2 separate regions of the Homo sapiens genome follow, and region 1 is linked to region 2. Evidence: fine-mapped expression QTL. A gene starts in region 2. The other region holds a variant in brackets. All regions are shown on one strand. Distances are from middle to middle.

Evidence for each region. PIP is the estimated chance that this variant, and not a neighbour inherited with it, causes the effect.
Region 1: its variant is fine-mapped to the expression of SLCO2A1 in rectum (CEDAR, PIP 0.95). The same link has a PIP of 0.9 or more in transverse colon.

What each region holds. Positions count from the first base shown.
Region 1 is chr3:133,931,703-133,940,028 of GRCh38, reverse strand. It overlaps SLCO2A1 (solute carrier organic anion transporter family member 2A1), which reads left to right. Exons shown (of 14, transcript NM_005630.3): 12 at 1,536-1,600; 13 at 4,132-4,255; 14 at 5,199-7,328. The coding sequence ends at 5,316. Among named protein-coding and RNA genes, the nearest start is that of C3orf36, 6.1 kb to the right of the region's middle. The variant C/T (reference allele first, on the strand shown) is at 3,872.
Region 2 is chr3:134,026,347-134,034,672 of GRCh38, reverse strand. It overlaps SLCO2A1 (solute carrier organic anion transporter family member 2A1), which reads left to right and starts at 4,748. Exons shown (of 14, transcript NM_005630.3): 1 at 4,748-4,966. The coding sequence starts at 4,871. RefSeq lists an enhancer at 4,253-4,753.

The DNA.
Region 1 (8,326 bases), 95 kb after region 2:
GCCACTGCACTCCAGCCTGGGTGACAGAATGAGACTCTGTCTCCGAAAAAAAAAAAAAAAAAAAAAGATGACTTTGTAGGTGACCCAAGCATTATTTATATGAGTCCTGGCCCCCAATTAGCCATGGGAACACAAGCTGGAAGTGAAGGCTAGCTGAAAACGTGGAAGGAGAAAGAGAGGTCAGAAGGTCAGCTTTCATTCAGGGCCACATGGGACAGAGACTAGAAGGGGCCCAAGATCTCAATCAAAAGCCAAATTGGGGTGGCCAAGTCCCGTTTCATTGAGAATCTAGGGGAGTCTGCCCAGGGCAAGGGCCAAGACAAGGCAGGTATCTATTATGAACTGGACCACTGGAGGGATCTGTAGACACAACAGGATTTGAGACACTTTGCATTGTGGGGGTCCCAAGGGGTGCCTCTTCCCCTGCCCCAATGAGTATTTGTCTCACTGGGCCATCCCTCAGGGGGACTGGGCAAAGGTCCCTTTCCAGTTTGCTAGCAGAACTGTGATGGTGGTGGTGAAACAAACCACAGGTAGAGGCCTGGGGATTACTTCTGAGCTCCCTTCCTCACTGTCCCCTAGCACTGAAGGCTCTTCCTGACAAGCACCCACCGGGAGTGTGTGTGCTCAGAGCACAGAGAGTCCTGGAGTCAAGTCACTCATCAGGTGCCTCTGCTGGCCAGCTGCTGGCTCCCCACCTTGTGTGGAGGTGTCCTCCCTCTCTCCACTCCCCAGCTGGGATGGCAGGGCCGTCCCCTGCTCTCTCTGAATCTCCTTCCTCAGCCAAACACATTTTCCTCTCTTGAAGGAAGATGGTTAGGGGCAGGACCAGCTACCTAATTTGCAGGACCTATTGCAAATGAAAATGTAAAGCCCCTGGCTCAGAAATTAAGAATTTCCAGACAGCTGCAGCAGAGCATTAAGCCAAACATGGGACCTTTCTGAGGGTGGAGTTGTATGCACACACCCACAGAGCTAGCCTGGGGTAGGGAATTCTTTTAGCTGTGCACAGAAGCCTGCAGCCCAAGGGCCCTAATTACACTTTGCAGCAGGGCTGTCTTTTACTGTTATAAGACATTCTGTGGGAGTTGTTCAGACCTGCTGCTATCAACACACCCACAGCATCCTTCTCTCCACTCCTAGCCTCTACTGCCCTCTGCTTCTTGAAGGGGGCTCTGGGCAGCCCTGAAAATCACACAGACTGGTGGTTCTCAGTGATGCATCAGAATCTCCTGGAGGTAAAATACAGATTGCTGGGCCCCATCCCCAGACTTTCCGACTCAGTAAGTCTGGGGTGGGCCTGAAAATCTGCATATCTAACAAGTTCCCAGGGGATGCTGATGATCCAGGGACCACGCTTTGAGGCCACTGATGTAAAGAACTAGAGCATTCAGCCCAGGTGAACCCGGTCACCAGAGGGCTCGTCAGGCCACATCAGGGCTGGTTCTGACCTGCTCTGAGGCTGGCTGCCCCTTACCCAAGGGATCGTGCAGCCCTGAATCCTCCCACTGCTGATTTCCTGTCTGTCTTTTCAGTGTGGTGAACCAGGAGGAAAAGTCATTTGCCATCGGGGTGCAGTTCTTGTTGATGCGCTTGCTGGGTAAGTGTCTAAGACCCCTCTTCCCAAGAAGTGGCCCCAGGCGATGGGGCATCTGAAGGCTATGGGTGCAGGGTAGCGATGGAGGAAGCACCATCTCATCTCCATGGCGAAGAGAAGCTGTGCATAATCAACAGCAGATGCCAAAATCCATGTGGACGGTTTCCCAGATTGCTTGAGGTTAGGAAAGACTCCATCTATGGCATTCATTCCTAACTAAGTTATGTAAGAAAAATGAAAAGTGAACACAGCTGAGAATACCTAATAGAGTGTTAAAGGCAGGTATTTTTAAATCCTTCTCACAAAACTCACTGTAGGAACAAAACTTTGCATTCCTGCCAAGCCAGAGCAGCGGCTGAGCCCAGCCCTGGCTTCCTTTCCATTTTACAAAATTCACTCCTCCTAAAACTATTTAGCAAAAGTTTCTTCCCTGTGGGGTCCTCTGCTGGTGAGTCCTGCCTGCCCTCAAGCAGTCCAGAGCCCACCAGAGGAATGGAGCTGTGCACAAGTGATCAGCAGTGCCCCAGGGGAGAGCGAGCTGCTTGAGGCAGCAGGAGTGCTCTCCCGGGGTGCCTGGGCTGAGGGCTGGGGGCACAATGCAGGCCCATTCCTGAACTGCTCACACTGGCTGTTCCTTCTTGACATATCTGTGCACTAGACTTAACACAAGGCAGCAATAGAGAGATCCTTGTAATGACAGGCACACAGTAGTAAAGGGACCTAATTGAACTGAGGATGTGTTAATTAAGGGTGCAAACTACAGAGGGGAATATGGAGACTCCAGCAAGAGGAACTTCAGTTACTATAAGGTGTCGTTTCTGACTATAAATCCTGAAATAATGTATAGCCCACTGTGCCTCATTACCCAGGGGCCAGGTCAACACCGCGCCCTGCAGTGGCTTCCATCCCCATTTTGAGATGTATTGGTGATGTCTCTACTGGGGCCAGGTGAGCGGGAGCCCTTGCTGAGCCCAATCCAGTCCCAGGCTGGGAGAAGTGTTTGGATGATGGGAATGAACCAGCTTTTTCAGTGGGATTTCTTGTTCCTCTAGTCCCTGCAGAGCCCCTTCAGACCCTGCTCCTGCTGCCTGCATTATAAACACAGAGGAAGCAGGGCGGCAGGATCTACCTGTCCTCCCAGCAGAGGCTCTGCTGTCATCAGAGCTCCTTATTTTCATTTATAACTTAACTTTCTCTAACACTTCTGCTGGGAAAGAGACCTCACATTCCTCTCAGCCCATCCAGCACCTAGGATAGGCTCTAAAGAGCCCTTTCCTGCTTCCTCCAGCAACCTTGAAAATGACCTTGAAAACAAGGACTCTCTCGGACTCTCTCGCACTGCTTGAAGCACTCGCTGCTTTTGCTTTTCCATTTGAGCTCAGATAACTCAATGTGGGACCACAATGAGAAAACCCAGGCCTGGAGGGGTTCCATTTATCACCCAAGAACACAATCCACTCTTGGGTAAAAAAAAGGACTTCCTATTACAGGTTTTAAATTACACATTGGGATTGGGTTGACAATGTTTCCGGACTTTGCTTCTACATAAGGAAGTGTCATATATCACTCTGGCCAGTTTTCATCCCCCTGTTCACCTGGAGACTTGAGAGTGAGCAGGATCTGAGTAGAGAGGCTTCTTCTTAGAGTTTCCCACTTGTGGGCAGTGCCACAAGTGGAGCATTGTCTGTCTTTCTTCTGGAAGCAGCTGCTCACAGGGCCCTAAACAAAGTCTGGGAGGCTGTTGTCAGCACTGTGGTGCTGAGAATGGGATGGGCCAGCCTTGGTGTAAATCCTGGACAAGCCCTCCGCAGTCCAGTAACTGCCTAGAGCTGTAGCTAGTGGTACGCTACCCACAGGTAGTGTGGCATCCGGAATATTAGACAGCCAGGAAGGCATAGCCCCTGCCAAGCCAAATCTTAACACTCAGCTGCTGGGAAGTTCGGGGTCCCAGAGCAGAAGCTTTGAGCAGCCAGGTATTGGGAGGTCTGCAGAGGGGTGTTGTCTAATCCAATAGGGCAGCTTGGTGTGGTGGAAGTACATGGGATTCGAACCTCCATAAACCAGGGTTCCAAGTCTGGCCTTGACTTCTCTTGGCTGTGTTACAGTGTCCCAGCCAAGAACCCCTTCCTCTTCACTAAAAAGTGGGCACCCACACCTCGGGGCCAGTGTGAGGACCTGAGAAGTCGATGCCTGGAGAGCCTCCTGCCACACAGTGGAGGCCCGTGTATCTCCACTCTGAGCTGATCTCAGGAGAACTATGTTGGATGTCTGAGC[C/T]GGCATCAAGGTGATCCCTGTGACTTACTCTGACTTGAAAGAATGGCCCAGGTCCCTTTTGTCTTCTAAGCCTTCTGGTGAAAGAGAAATTCAGGCTTCACTGAAAGCTATTCTGCTTTCCAGAGTCACTGTGAGTCCTATGGGTACGGCAGAGCCGTTCTCATGTATGTGAACTGTGTCGGGGACTTGGCTCCCACACCCCTGCTGGACACCTCTGCCTGCAGTTCCACCTGACCAGGGCTTTCTGAACCCTCTTCCAGCCTGGCTGCCATCTCCAGCCCTCTATGGCCTCACCATTGACCACTCCTGCATCCGGTGGAACTCGCTGTGCTTGGGGAGGCGAGGGGCCTGCGCCTACTATGACAACGATGCTCTCCGAGACAGGTGAGGGCCCATCATGTATGTGTGTCCCAGAGCCAGGCCCTGGGCTTGAGATGACAGTAGTCATATGCCCAGTGGCTACTGTGGGGGCTGTCAGGCTTCCAAGGAAGAGAACATGAAGGGCCACCTCTGCGGCCCTGCCATGGACAGGGAGCAGGGGCTACTATAACAGGCATTTCAGGGCTCACAGGGAGATGTCCAGGGACTTCCATGACCCGAAAGCCCTTGGAAGGGGCAGCAGACCCAGGGACTTCCCTGACCCGAAAGCCTTTGGAAGGGGCAGCAGCAGAAAGAAGGGGCGGGGATGGCTGGAGCCCAAGGAAGAGGCCATGGCTGTGGAAAAATTGGGGGCAGCCTCCTGCTGCTCAGAGACAGAGGGGGGCCACATCATGGCTCCTGGCAGAGGTCCAGGGCAGGGGGACCAACCTGCCTCAATGGGCCAAGTCCAGCTGCAGTGCTATTGGGTTCTGCACCCCTTCCAGCCACCTCACCTGCTGCCGTTGTCATATGGCCCAGAAACCACAGGAAGGTGGGCTTGAGGGGACTGGGCAGGGGCTGGAAATGGTATGGGAGTGGCAGAGAAGACCACAAAAGGGACAGGCCAAGAGGGCAGTGAGAAGATGCCTCTCTCCTTCTGGCTCTGCTTGGAGGTCAGGACCGTCTGGGGGTGGCTGGGGCAGCTGGGTCACCTCTGGCCCTCTGGAAAGAGCCAGTGGAGGGATGATGAGCCCTGGATTAAGAGTCCCATGCCTACTCCCTGCCTGCTTCCCTACAGCTTTGTTCCCTTTTGGGTCAAAGAAATGAGGAAAGTGATCCTCACCTGGATGGTGCCCACACCTTCCGCGGGCCAGCGTGGGAATGATGTGGTTCTTCCCAGTGGTCCTGGCCCTGGGATGTGGGCTGCAGAGCCCCCTCCCTCACCAGTCCTGCCTCCTCCTGCCCACAGGTACCTGGGCCTGCAGATGGGCTACAAGGCGCTGGGCATGCTGCTGCTTTGCTTCATCAGCTGGAGGGTGAAGAAGAACAAGGAGTACAACGTGCAGAAGGCGGCAGGCCTCATCTGACCCCACCCTGGGCCACTGCCCTGCTCCAGAGAGTGGACCTTGACTCTTCCACACCTGCCTATACTCACTAATGTTAACACGTCATTTCCTTTTTGTATTTTTAAACAAGAAAGAAAACCCCAGTCCTCATTTGCCTTCCCTACCTCTTCCTCCCAGAGTCCTCCCCACAGTTCCTAAGGGCCACTGTGTACCCGGGCTGTGTGGGCCAGAACTGGGGGGCTGAGTCTTCCCTGGCCCCTTGGAAGAGGCCCCCAGATGCCCAGGCTCACTTCAGTGTTGAGTCCTCCATTGAGGATGCCCACTGAGGCAGCCAGGCCCCTCACCAGCCCTGGGGGGAATCCTAAACAGAGAGAGAAAAAGGGTATCTGCCCTTCTTGCCAGGCAGCTCCACTCTCCCGCTGACTGCCCACACCCTGCAGAGTGGCAGGGGTGAAAGGAAGAAGGAAGTGGCTGAGTTATTAATAGCCAGAGCCACTGGGAGACTGGGGAGACTGGCTGTAACCCCCTTCACACCTGGGTTTGGCATCAGCACAGACTACGGGAGGGGCTGGCTCCCTCCCCCTCAGACCCTCACTTCCTGTACCTAGAGGCCATTCTGGATGCTGCCATGTTGGGAAGTACAGTCTCTGCCCATTACCTGCATGCAGGCACCAGAGCAGGGACTGAGAAACCCCAAGGATGGGTCATCTAAGTGCTGTCCATATGAACCCTGGACTTTCTGTCCTTAGATCCTCACATGTTATCCCTGTCTTTCTGGGGTACGTTTCAAACTGAGGAAGCTACAACACAGTGAAGACCCAAGGAAGGCCTATGAAAAGGTCCTGATGCCCAACCTCCCACCCCTTCAATGTGGGGACGAGACCCCCTCATCTCAGAGTAATGGGAAGAACCTCCCACATCTCCCTGGCAGCAGATGAGGTGGCTTCACATGCACTTCCCTGTCTGGACTTCAGCCCGTATTCCGAGGAGTAGAGAGGCAGAAGAGATGTCAGCAAAGCAAGTGATGAAGCAGAGTGGATGTCCACTGTCACCAAGCTGGATGGCAAGCTGCGGCCCACAAAACAGCCAGTCAGGTTGGCTTTCCTGGTTTCAGACATGCTCATACCATTCCCATTTTCTCAGCCTCTTCTCACTGCCTCCAGAGAGGTGGGTGCCTGGGTTGAGAGACACAGCTGCTACGTGATAGATGTTGAGAGACAGAAGCCAACGAAGGAGGTCATTCATCAACAAATATATTTATTGGAGACCGACTTTGTGCAAAGCAATGCTAATCAGGGTTCTCCATGGAGCTTCCCTCAGCTCTTACCTCACCTCCCTCCATTTACATTAGGGCCTTCTCCCAGGGTGTGCTCGGTGGGCAGTGTGGGACTGGGGGTGTGGGAGTTGGTGAGAGCAGGAGGAGAGGTGGGGACAGCAAGAAGCCACAGATTGGCATGAAGGATCCTGACCTGACTATCCATGCCATCCATGGCCCCCAGACTGACTCTGCACCTGGCCCTTTGCCAGACAGCTCTGTCTCCCCATGTCCTCTGGAACAGCTGGGCATGGGTCATGGCCATTCATGACCCTTAAGTGCCACCCTTCTTGGAAGACCCCCTCCAGAAGCATACTGGAAGCCACCTCTGGAAAAGCCTCATATGGTGATATGCCAAAATATTTATGTCAATGTCCAAACAAAGTCCAATGCCATGAGACTGAAGTCTTTGTGGAAACCACTGTTACAGACAAGCTTATTTCCAAAGCCACCTCATTTCCAAACATCTCACTCAGGAAGGGAGGCTCAATGTAACCTCAGGGGCCAGTTTTAGCATTTGAAATGGTTCTGCTTGGAAAATGATGCCCTGCAACTAACCCTGGTCTTTCCCATGGCAATTTAACCACATTTGGAAGGCACTGCCTTCAGCTGAGTTTATGAACAATGAATGCCAACCTTCAGGTTCTAGAAGATTGGTTGCACTCCCAAACCTTTATTCTATTATATTACTATTAAAATATTCTAATTTTGCTATTGAGGTAACTTGGTCATGAATTTATGTTGTCATATACATCTGTCAGAGAACAGACAGCACCTGCACTTTTTAATTTTATTTTATTTTTATTTGTATTTTATTTTTGAGATGGAGTCTTGCTCTGTCACCCAGGCTGGAGTGCAGTGGCACAATCTTGGCTCACTGCAACCTCTGCCTCCTTGGTTCAAGCGATTCTCCTGCCTCAGCCTCCAGAGTAACTGGGATTACAGGCCTGCGCCACCACACCTGGCTAATTTTTGTACTTTTAGTAGAGACAGGGTTTCACCATGTTGGCCAGGCTGGTCTCAAACTCCTGACCTCAAGTGATCCTCCCGCCTCAGCCTCCCAAAGTGTTGGGATTACAGGCATGAGCCACTGCGCCCTGCCGGCACCTGCATCTTGTAAACAGAGGAAGTGCTCATGACATAGACCCCAGGGGCCCATGGCCATGGAGATTAGAGGTAATGCAACTGTCAACCCATTAGCCTGGTATCAGGCAAGTACCAGACACTGCTTATTCCTTCAGTGAAGTTCTGCTGGGCTCTGAGAAGGCCGCATCACTGCTCTTGGGTTTATATCCAGAAGCGGAGCTGGACGCAAACAGCTATGTCCATGGCACAAAACAGAATTAATATCATAATCAAATTGATCACATGGTCACAACCAGTACTACTACTCCCAAGAAAATCTTTCTTTTCAGCTGTCAGCAGGGAATATAATAGTGTCACTTTCATTTCACTTCTAGAGCAAAGCTTAACAAACTTTCTTGAGTGTGTGACACTCACAGAGGATGCAAATTCCCAACACCCTCCACCCAGCCCCAGCGTCTACTTCTGTGGGTCTAATGGGGACCCAGGAATGGCTCTTTTAACGGCCCCCTCATGAGATTGATGTGGGTAGTTCCCAAATCCTGTGAGGTGGGCTGTCAGTGCAATAGAGCCTGGGGTATGCCCATTTGTGCTTAGGCCACTGAGAAATTTACAGGCTCGATAGGCCTTTGG
Region 2 (8,326 bases):
ATTGCCAAGGAAGCTTCATCAGCTGCTGCAGGAGTGGGCAGTGTGGCCCACCAAGTTCATGGCCAGCCAGTGGTGAGAAGAGACAAGGCTGAGACCCAGAGACAACCCAGAGGCCTTCAGGGGGCAGAAGGAGCGGGGTTTGGGCAGAGAGAACAATGGCATGGAGGTCTAGGAGCAATGAGGCCTTTTCCAGTCACGAGGGCCCTTTTAGAATTTATTTCTGCTTAATAGCACTTAATAAACATTTTTGAGCAATGGGATATGTTAGGTCAAATGGGGGATATAAAGAGAGTTGACACAGAACCTTTGCCCTTGAAGAGCCCACAGCTGAGTTGAAGGAAGAGACCTAGAGCACAGTTTACTAACATCAAACCACCAACCCCCACAGCAAGAGCAGCTTCCCAGCATTGAGACCTCACTATGCTCCAGGCATTCCATGCATCATCTCATATGCACTTCATAACAGCTCATCACGAAGAGAAGTCACCGCAGATCCAATGGGTTAAGCAAGCTATCGAAGGTAGTCAGCAATTTTGTCTGACTACAAGTTCGTGTAATAATAATGTGAACCACTCCTTGAAGAGTAGAATCCAAGCATTGTGAGGCTGGCAGTGCAGGCAGGGGAATAGCATGAGCAAAAACCAGAGGTGGGAATGAATTTAACTGCCCCAGGAGGAGGCCCAAGACAGCTGGAGACAATTCAGGCAGACAGGAGAGCCCGTAGCTGCTCAGCTGCTCCCTGTCTTTTTCCTTCCCTCCGCAACCTTGAGAAAGTTGTCGATGGGTTCTATTTGCATTTTCTCCTATCCAGTTCCTCCTGCCCACATCACCCACTGCAGACACTCTTGCCAAGTTCCTCAATGCCAGCGTTGCCAGCCTGGTGGCCACTCCTCAGGCCTTCTCTTGCCTCCCCAGCAGCCTGGCCATGTGCCCGCCCTCCTCCATTTTGAAAGAGTACCCTCAGCTCTATCAACACCTCCTCCCCTGGTTTACTTTCCTCCACTCTGGCTCCGTCCCTTGTGCCACCTTGATATTGCTGTGGCCCATCCTGGACCTACTTCTCATCAACACAGTCTCCCTAGGAGACTCATCCCTTCTTGAGGCTTAACCACCACCTCCACGTGGGATTTCCAAGCCCATATCTCTAGCCCAGTGTCCACCCTGAGTGCTGGACCCATATACCCATCTGACTCCTGAAGATCTTTACTTGGGTATAGTCTGGGAAATTTGAATTTCAAATGTGACCAGGATACTCACTGGCTTCCTTCAATAGTGACTGCTCCTTCTGGGCCCCCTCTGTCAGGAGTGGGCATCACCAACGCTAGTTGCCCAAGCCAGATCCTGGGAGTCATCACTAACATCTCTCCTCTCACTGATATGTGGGTGCCACCTCGCTTTGACATTTCTTAAGCTTTTCTCTCCTTCCTACCACCATCCCACTGCTGCCATGCCAGCTTTTATCATAGCTCCTGGGATTCCTTCCACAGACTACCTAATTCCACTCTGGCTGCCAGAGAGGTCCATGTGAAATGCAAATTAGCCCAGGTCACCCTTGGTTAGAAGCCTTTAACGGCTCCCCATTGTGCTGGGGAGAAAACCTAAACTCCCAGCCTCTTTGCTTCACACACACATACCCACTGCGCTTGGTCTTGAGCTCCAGCCAGACTGAAACCATGGAGTAGGTTTACCCTCTTTACCCTAATCCTCTCAATCCTACTAGTTCTTAGGGCTCAGCTTGACAGTCGCCTCCTCCTAGAAGTCTTCCTGCTGTCCAAGGTGCATTAGGGCTCCACTTCTATGCTCCCATAGCAGCTGTGCACAATAGCTTTCTTCCTACATCACAGCCACACTTTCTCTTCTTGTTTCCCACCCTGAGACCATAGAGTCTTTGAGGTCAGGAGATGTTCTTGTGGTTTAGCTTTTTTTAAAATTTATTTATTTATTTATTTATTTATTTATTTATTTATTTATTTATTTGAGACAGAGTCTTGCTCTGTAGCCCAGGCTGGAGTGCACTGGCACGACCTTGGCTCACTGCAGCCTCTGCCTCCCAGGTTCAAGCAATTCTCCTGCTTCAGCCTCCCAAGCAGCTGGGACTACAGACACCTGCCACCATGCCTGGCTAATTTTGTATTTTTAGTAGAGAAGGGGTTTCACCATGTTGGCCGGGATGGTCTCAATCTCCTGACCTCAAGTGATCCGCCCGCCTCAGCCTCCTCAAGTGCTGGGATTAGAGGCATGAGCCACCGTGCCCAGCCTATTTTTTGTATTTTTTCAGTGCTAGGAAATATTTACTGAAATTTAAGGATGGAAAGTCTGGGAGACCGACTCTAGGAGTGCTCTTGAAAGGAAATGGGTTACTCCATGTGTAGGTGTTGAAAATGTAAAACACAATATTATTTCTCCCTTTTTCCCTAATAAAACCCCAATTTTGTTCAGAGGACAGCAATAGTGTTAATTACACTTCTTAGCATCCTTTGCAGGGGGTAGCTATGTGACCCAGGTTTGGCCAAGAAGACTTAAGTAAAAGCAACTGTGCACGCAAGGGAGAGATTTGCTCCCTTGATGTAAGCATGGCCCCTTCCTGTTTCCTGTCTTCCACATCTTTCCTGGAATTAGGAGAGGAGGCTGGAGATGGAGCAGCCATCTTGTGACAATGAGCCAGCCACAGGGATGGGAACCACAGGCTAAGGAATCTTGAAGGGCCTAGGTCATGACCCCTGGACTACCTACTAGCAGACTTCTAATTATTGAGAGACAAATAAATCTCATTTAAGTCATTTTGGTTGGCTCTCCATTACATTTAGCTGAACTCCACCCAGTAAAGGTCAATGAAGGAAGATAAGCATCTGTGAGCATTTCTGAATAGGCTTTTCCTTTGGAGATGATGCTGGCGCTGACGGGAGGCAGAGGGCCAGGTTAATGGAACAGGACTAGGTGAGGGCTGGAGAGGCTGATCCTCCCAGGGGTTCTACCAGAGGATCACAGTGAGGCCTCAGGGTTTGAGAAAGAAGCTCCAGGCATGGTAGCCCTAAGGTGTCTGTGACCTTGGCCTGGGGGTTTTCTGGTCCCTGTTTGGTTCAACTTGCAAAATGGGGCTGTTGGACTAGACAACTTATCAGAAGGCATAGTGCTTCAAGTCTGGGCTTAGGAGTCAGACAAGGCTGAATTCAGGGTCCAGCTCCACCACTTGCTAGCTGTGTGGCTTTCAGACAGCTTTCTTAGCCGACTGCTCTAGCATCCTTGTTTGTGGAGTCCAGACTCCATCAGTACCTATACCTGTAGGGCTAACGTTGGGGCTTCATGAAATCATGCATGTGGGTGCTCAGCAGAGGGCCTGGTATGCCCAGCACACACCAAGTGCTCCATGCTGGTACCTGTCCTTGTGTGCCATGTTCTCCCAGTGGACAGATGGGACCTGGAATTCATGCCTCCTCTGGGGCTGGGGCTGGGGCTGCTACAGTGCTGTGGAAAGCCTGTCAGGATGTACCTCGCTCTGTGGCTGAGTGAAGAGGCCAGAGGCTGCCCACTGTTCAACATCTTTGGAATGCTGCCGTGTCCAGGGAACTTGGGTCGCAGGTGGATAGAAGCCCCCAAGCCCAGGCCAGGCCAGACCAGGCCCAGAAAGGTATCAGGTCTTGGGTAGAATAAGAAGCCTATGTGGTCTATCTATCCTGTGGCCTTTGTCTTAGCCAAAGCCTCCTGGATATTGACGGCATCTTTTCCTGGGTTTGGGGTGGGCTTGGAGAGGTTCCCTCTGCACGGGACTACAGAAGTGAGGGAGCTGGAAAAATGCCTCCAGAGCTGGATTCCTCACTGCAGCTGCTTTTGGAAGAACCTTCTTATCCTTCCCTTGAGAAGCCTCACTGTCTCTTCTCGGCGCTTGGAATCCTGTTAGTAGAAAATCTTGGGGAAAAAATAAACCCACTATTCATTCCAGCACTGAGAAGGAGGTCAGTGGGGTGCGTCCTGTTTGTCCACACCCCCCCCACCCCCTCTACCCCTCCCCCCAGCACCCCAGGCCAGACCCAGCCATGCTGACACTTGACAGCCCCTGCAGTTTACCTTGGCTCAGGTCCAGAGACTTCGGGCCCAGCCCCCACCTTTTCACCTTGTTACCCAGCCCCCTCTCCAGCGCAAAGAGCAGTTTAAATATAAATCAGTCCTCAACACAAACAGAGCTGCAGCGAGTCTCAGAGCCATCACCGGAACTGAGGGCCCAGGTTTTCTGCGAGTGCAAACAAGCAGAGACTGGCTCCGTAAATCTCCCCAAGAACGTCGGGAGGGGTGCTGGGGCTCCCCTCCACCCCCGGCTCACGTTGGCCCCTCCAGCGCCCGCCTCGGGCACCCTCATATCCCAGCCTTCCTGCCCCCCAGCCCTGCCAACCTCTTTCTCCATCCCCTCCACTCACCCACCTTCGCTTCGCCCACCCTCTCTTCGCCAGTCCCCAGGAACCTCCACCCCCTTGCAACCTCCTGCCCCCGCACAGCCCTCACCTCCCCTCCCCGGGCCCGCCACCTCCTTCCCTCCCTCTCCGCCTCCCGGCAGGCGGGATCTTCTCGGGGCAGTCAAGCCTCGCGGGTCGCTGCGGCGTCACACCTGTCTGAGGGGGCGGCGGCGGCGGCGGCGGCGGGGCGGGGGCTCGTAGCGCCTTTGACACCCGAGGAAAAGAGGGAGGAGGGAGAGCGCGTTTCATCATCGGCGGCGGCCACTTATAAAAACTTCTAGGCGCGCACTCGCTGGCTCAGTCTCCGCTCCGCGAATCTCCTCCGGCCACTGCCGCCGCGGTCGCCTCTCACCCGCCCGGCCGCTCCAGCCCGAGGCGCCCCGACCCCGCGCCACTCCGCGCCCGGCCAGCCGCCCGCAGCCATGGGGCTCCTGCCCAAGCTCGGCGCGTCCCAGGGCAGCGACACCTCTACTAGCCGAGCCGGCCGCTGTGCCCGCTCGGTCTTCGGCAACATTAAGGTGAGCGGAGTCCGCGGGGTCTTCCGGGCCGGAGCCGCGCCTGGCGCACCTTCGGCTGGGCACCCGCTTCTGTCTGCCGGAGCCAGGAGGCTCCGGGAGCCCCGGGCTCCCTCCTGTGCCGCGCTCCGATCTCATCCCCGGGCGACGCGTGCTGGGCGTGTGTGTGCGAGTGTGTGTGTGAGCGTGTGTGTGTGTGAGCGTGTGTGTGTGCGTGCGAGTGTGTGTGTGTGTGTTCACACGCCTTCATCGGACTAAGTAATGGGACAGTGGAAGTACCTGCTTACCGCTTACTCGGACAACTCCAGGCAGAGTTATAAGCGAGAGAATTGTCCTCGATGATTGAAAAAGATCATCTCGAGGAACGCTTTTTCGGCCTCCAGCGGGCGGTTACTTCGTCAATGGGATGGGCTTGGAGGTGCCAGGGGGACCCCCCGCGCTTTGGGGGACAGACTGTGTCTCGTCCGAGCCCCCTCGTCCTGGGGTGGGTGGCCTAAGGGATGTTCTCCTTCCCCAGGCTTTCTTCTCCCGCCAACGGGGGCGGGGGGCTCTGCTACCTGGCTGTGCCGCTCGCAGTTATGTTTAGAATTCCCTCTCAGCGGGCGGCTTCCCCAGGCTGGCAACCAACCCGCGTGCTCAGATTGGCTTCCCTGGTCTGGAAATGGCCCCAGGAAGGTCACAGCTCTCACGGTTCAGTAAGGTCTAAGCAGGTCCACTCACCAGGCAAGTTATGGGGAGCGGGTGAGAAGATAGGGTGTTGGCAGCTGTTAGGATGAGAGCACCTTTCCCATGGGGTCGGAAATGCTTTCCACTCCCTCACAGGTCCAGGAGGACCTGGAATGGTTCAATCCGCACTCGGGCTCTTTTGCCCGTTCTGCCTAGGCAGAAGTAACAATGGAAGATACCTCCTGAGAGGCCAAAGCTGCTGCGGTGAGGATGTGGGAGACTGCAGAGACTGCATCAAGGCCCCTTCTGGTCAGGGTGGGATCATGGTGTAGAGAGGTTGTTTCCCACAAACATACAGTCAGATGGGACTGAGTAAAGCCTCCGGTGGTGCAATTAAGGGGAAGCCAGATTACACAAAGGGATGATGGGGGTGTCCGTGGACTGGTTATATGTGTCCAACAGAAAGGGATCTGGAGGTCAGAGTGGATCTCACCTGCATACTTACTCAGCTGGGATCTCCACTCCTGCTTCTGCTCTTTCCGCACCGCAATAAATACAGGCTGAATTGATTTTGTAGTTGTATATGGATAAGCAACAGAAATTTTGAGATAGCTTAAAATAATCTCCAAATCTCCTCATTTTTGGCCAGACCTGGATGGAAATGTTGTGCGCAGTTTTGGTTCCACCATTTTGGAGAAATTTCATCAGGAATTTTGGAACCTTTGGTATTTATAAATTAGGAATTGAGATGAAAGGGTAGGGACTAGGATTAGATGGTGTAAAGAAAGGGGCCTCTGCAGGAACCAGGGTGGGGCAACCTCACTTCATTTTCACCAAGAAGGGCAGGAGGGACGGGTGTCCAGAACAGATTCCTGACAGTGAGGGTACAGCTGAATGAGACTGATCCGTTTAGACCCACCCTGGTTCCCTAAAATAAATGTTTATGGCAGCAATTTATTTGGAGATCTATATAAATAAGATGATTTCTCATGTGTTGATGATTTAACCACACGTACCTGAGGGCTGGGCTCAGGCCAATTGGCCTCCTAAAGGAGTTAAGTACTCATACTGGCTAAGAGTTTTTCTTGACTCTAAAAATGAGATTCTGTTAGTCATCACCTCCTTTGATCCATACTAATTGCAAGACCAGAGTTTGGAGGACTTCCATTTAACTCCACTTATCAGCCTGAAACCAGGTACGAGGTTGGATAGCTTAAGGTAAATCTTGAATCTCAAATTCCATCAGTTAAAGTCACTTGCACCTTTCCCTCCTGGGGCAATAACTGGGAGCTCTGCTATTTGAAGGGATATTTCCTCCCAATGAGAGTGCTTGTAATAGCCCTGCCACTTTGCAGTGGGGGATGGGTTGCACATATCTTGGGACATGTATGACATGGTGGTGTAGCAGGACGAGCCACAGACAAAACTCCTCAGACACTGAGTTAAAGAAGGAAGGGGTTTATTCAGCCGGGGGCATCAGCAAGACTGCTGTCTCAAGAGCTGAGCTCCCCGAGTGAGCAATTCCTGTCCTTTTTAAGGGCTCACAACTCTAAGGGGGTGCACCTGAGAGGGTCGTGATCGATTGAGCAAACAGTGGGTACGTGACTGGGGGCTGCATGCACCAGTAATTAGATCGGAACAAAACAGAATAGGGATTTTCACAGTGCTTTTCTGTACAATGTCTGTAATCTATAGATAACATAACCGATTAGGTCAGGGGTCGATCTTTAACTACCAGCGCTAGGGTGCGGCTCCGGGCTGTCTGCTTGTGGATTTCATTTCTGCCTTTTAGTTTTTACTTTTTCTTTCTTTGGAGGCAGAAATTGGGCATAAGACAATATGAGGGGTGGTCTCCTCCCTTATTCCCCTCCTTTGAGATTCTCACTCAATAGTGGGAGTTCTCACTTTCATTTTTACTACCTGTGTCTTCTTGCAAGACAGATCGATAGTGATTCATATAGTACACTTGTGCTGAACCTTTTTGGTGAACTAAGGTAGCGATGAAGCTTTTTATCATTTGAAGAAGTATAGGTAGCAAACAAGGGAGCAGTAAGCAGGTTCCTATTACTATTATAACTCTTATTATTAGAGTTTTAAATTCTCTTAGCGCTGGGAACCATTTTCTAAACATGGCCCCAGGATCAAATCCATGCCACACTTGCACAGGCACATGTGCCAGTTTTGTCATATCTCTTAACTGTGTCTTCAACTACTTGCCCTTGATTATCTATATGTAGGCAGCAATTAGAAAGGTTAAATTTCCTACAGACCTCTCCTTCAGCTGCTAGCAAGTAGTCAAGAGCTAATCTATTTTGATAGGTAGCATTTCTCATCTGAGTTTCTTGCTGGGCCAGAATAGTCAAGGCTCTGCCGGTTTTATTAGTGATTATTTTTAAGACAGCTTGTAACCGTATGATTCAGTTGATCACGTAAATGGGGGTCTGGTATCCTCACAAGCCGTCTTGTGCCTAGCAGGCCTATAATATTGTATGATTTTCTCAGGGGGCCATTTATCATTTTTTCAATTTCCTATAGCTATGCTTCTCTTTTCGCGGGAAGCATAGACAGGGAAGCCCAGGAGTTCGCCTGTTTTTATGGGCAGTAGGAAAAAGATGGTTTAATAGTGCCAATAACAAAACTACCTGCCTACTGGTCAGGTAATTTGGCGTAAGCTCTATGCCTACGTATCTAGTATAA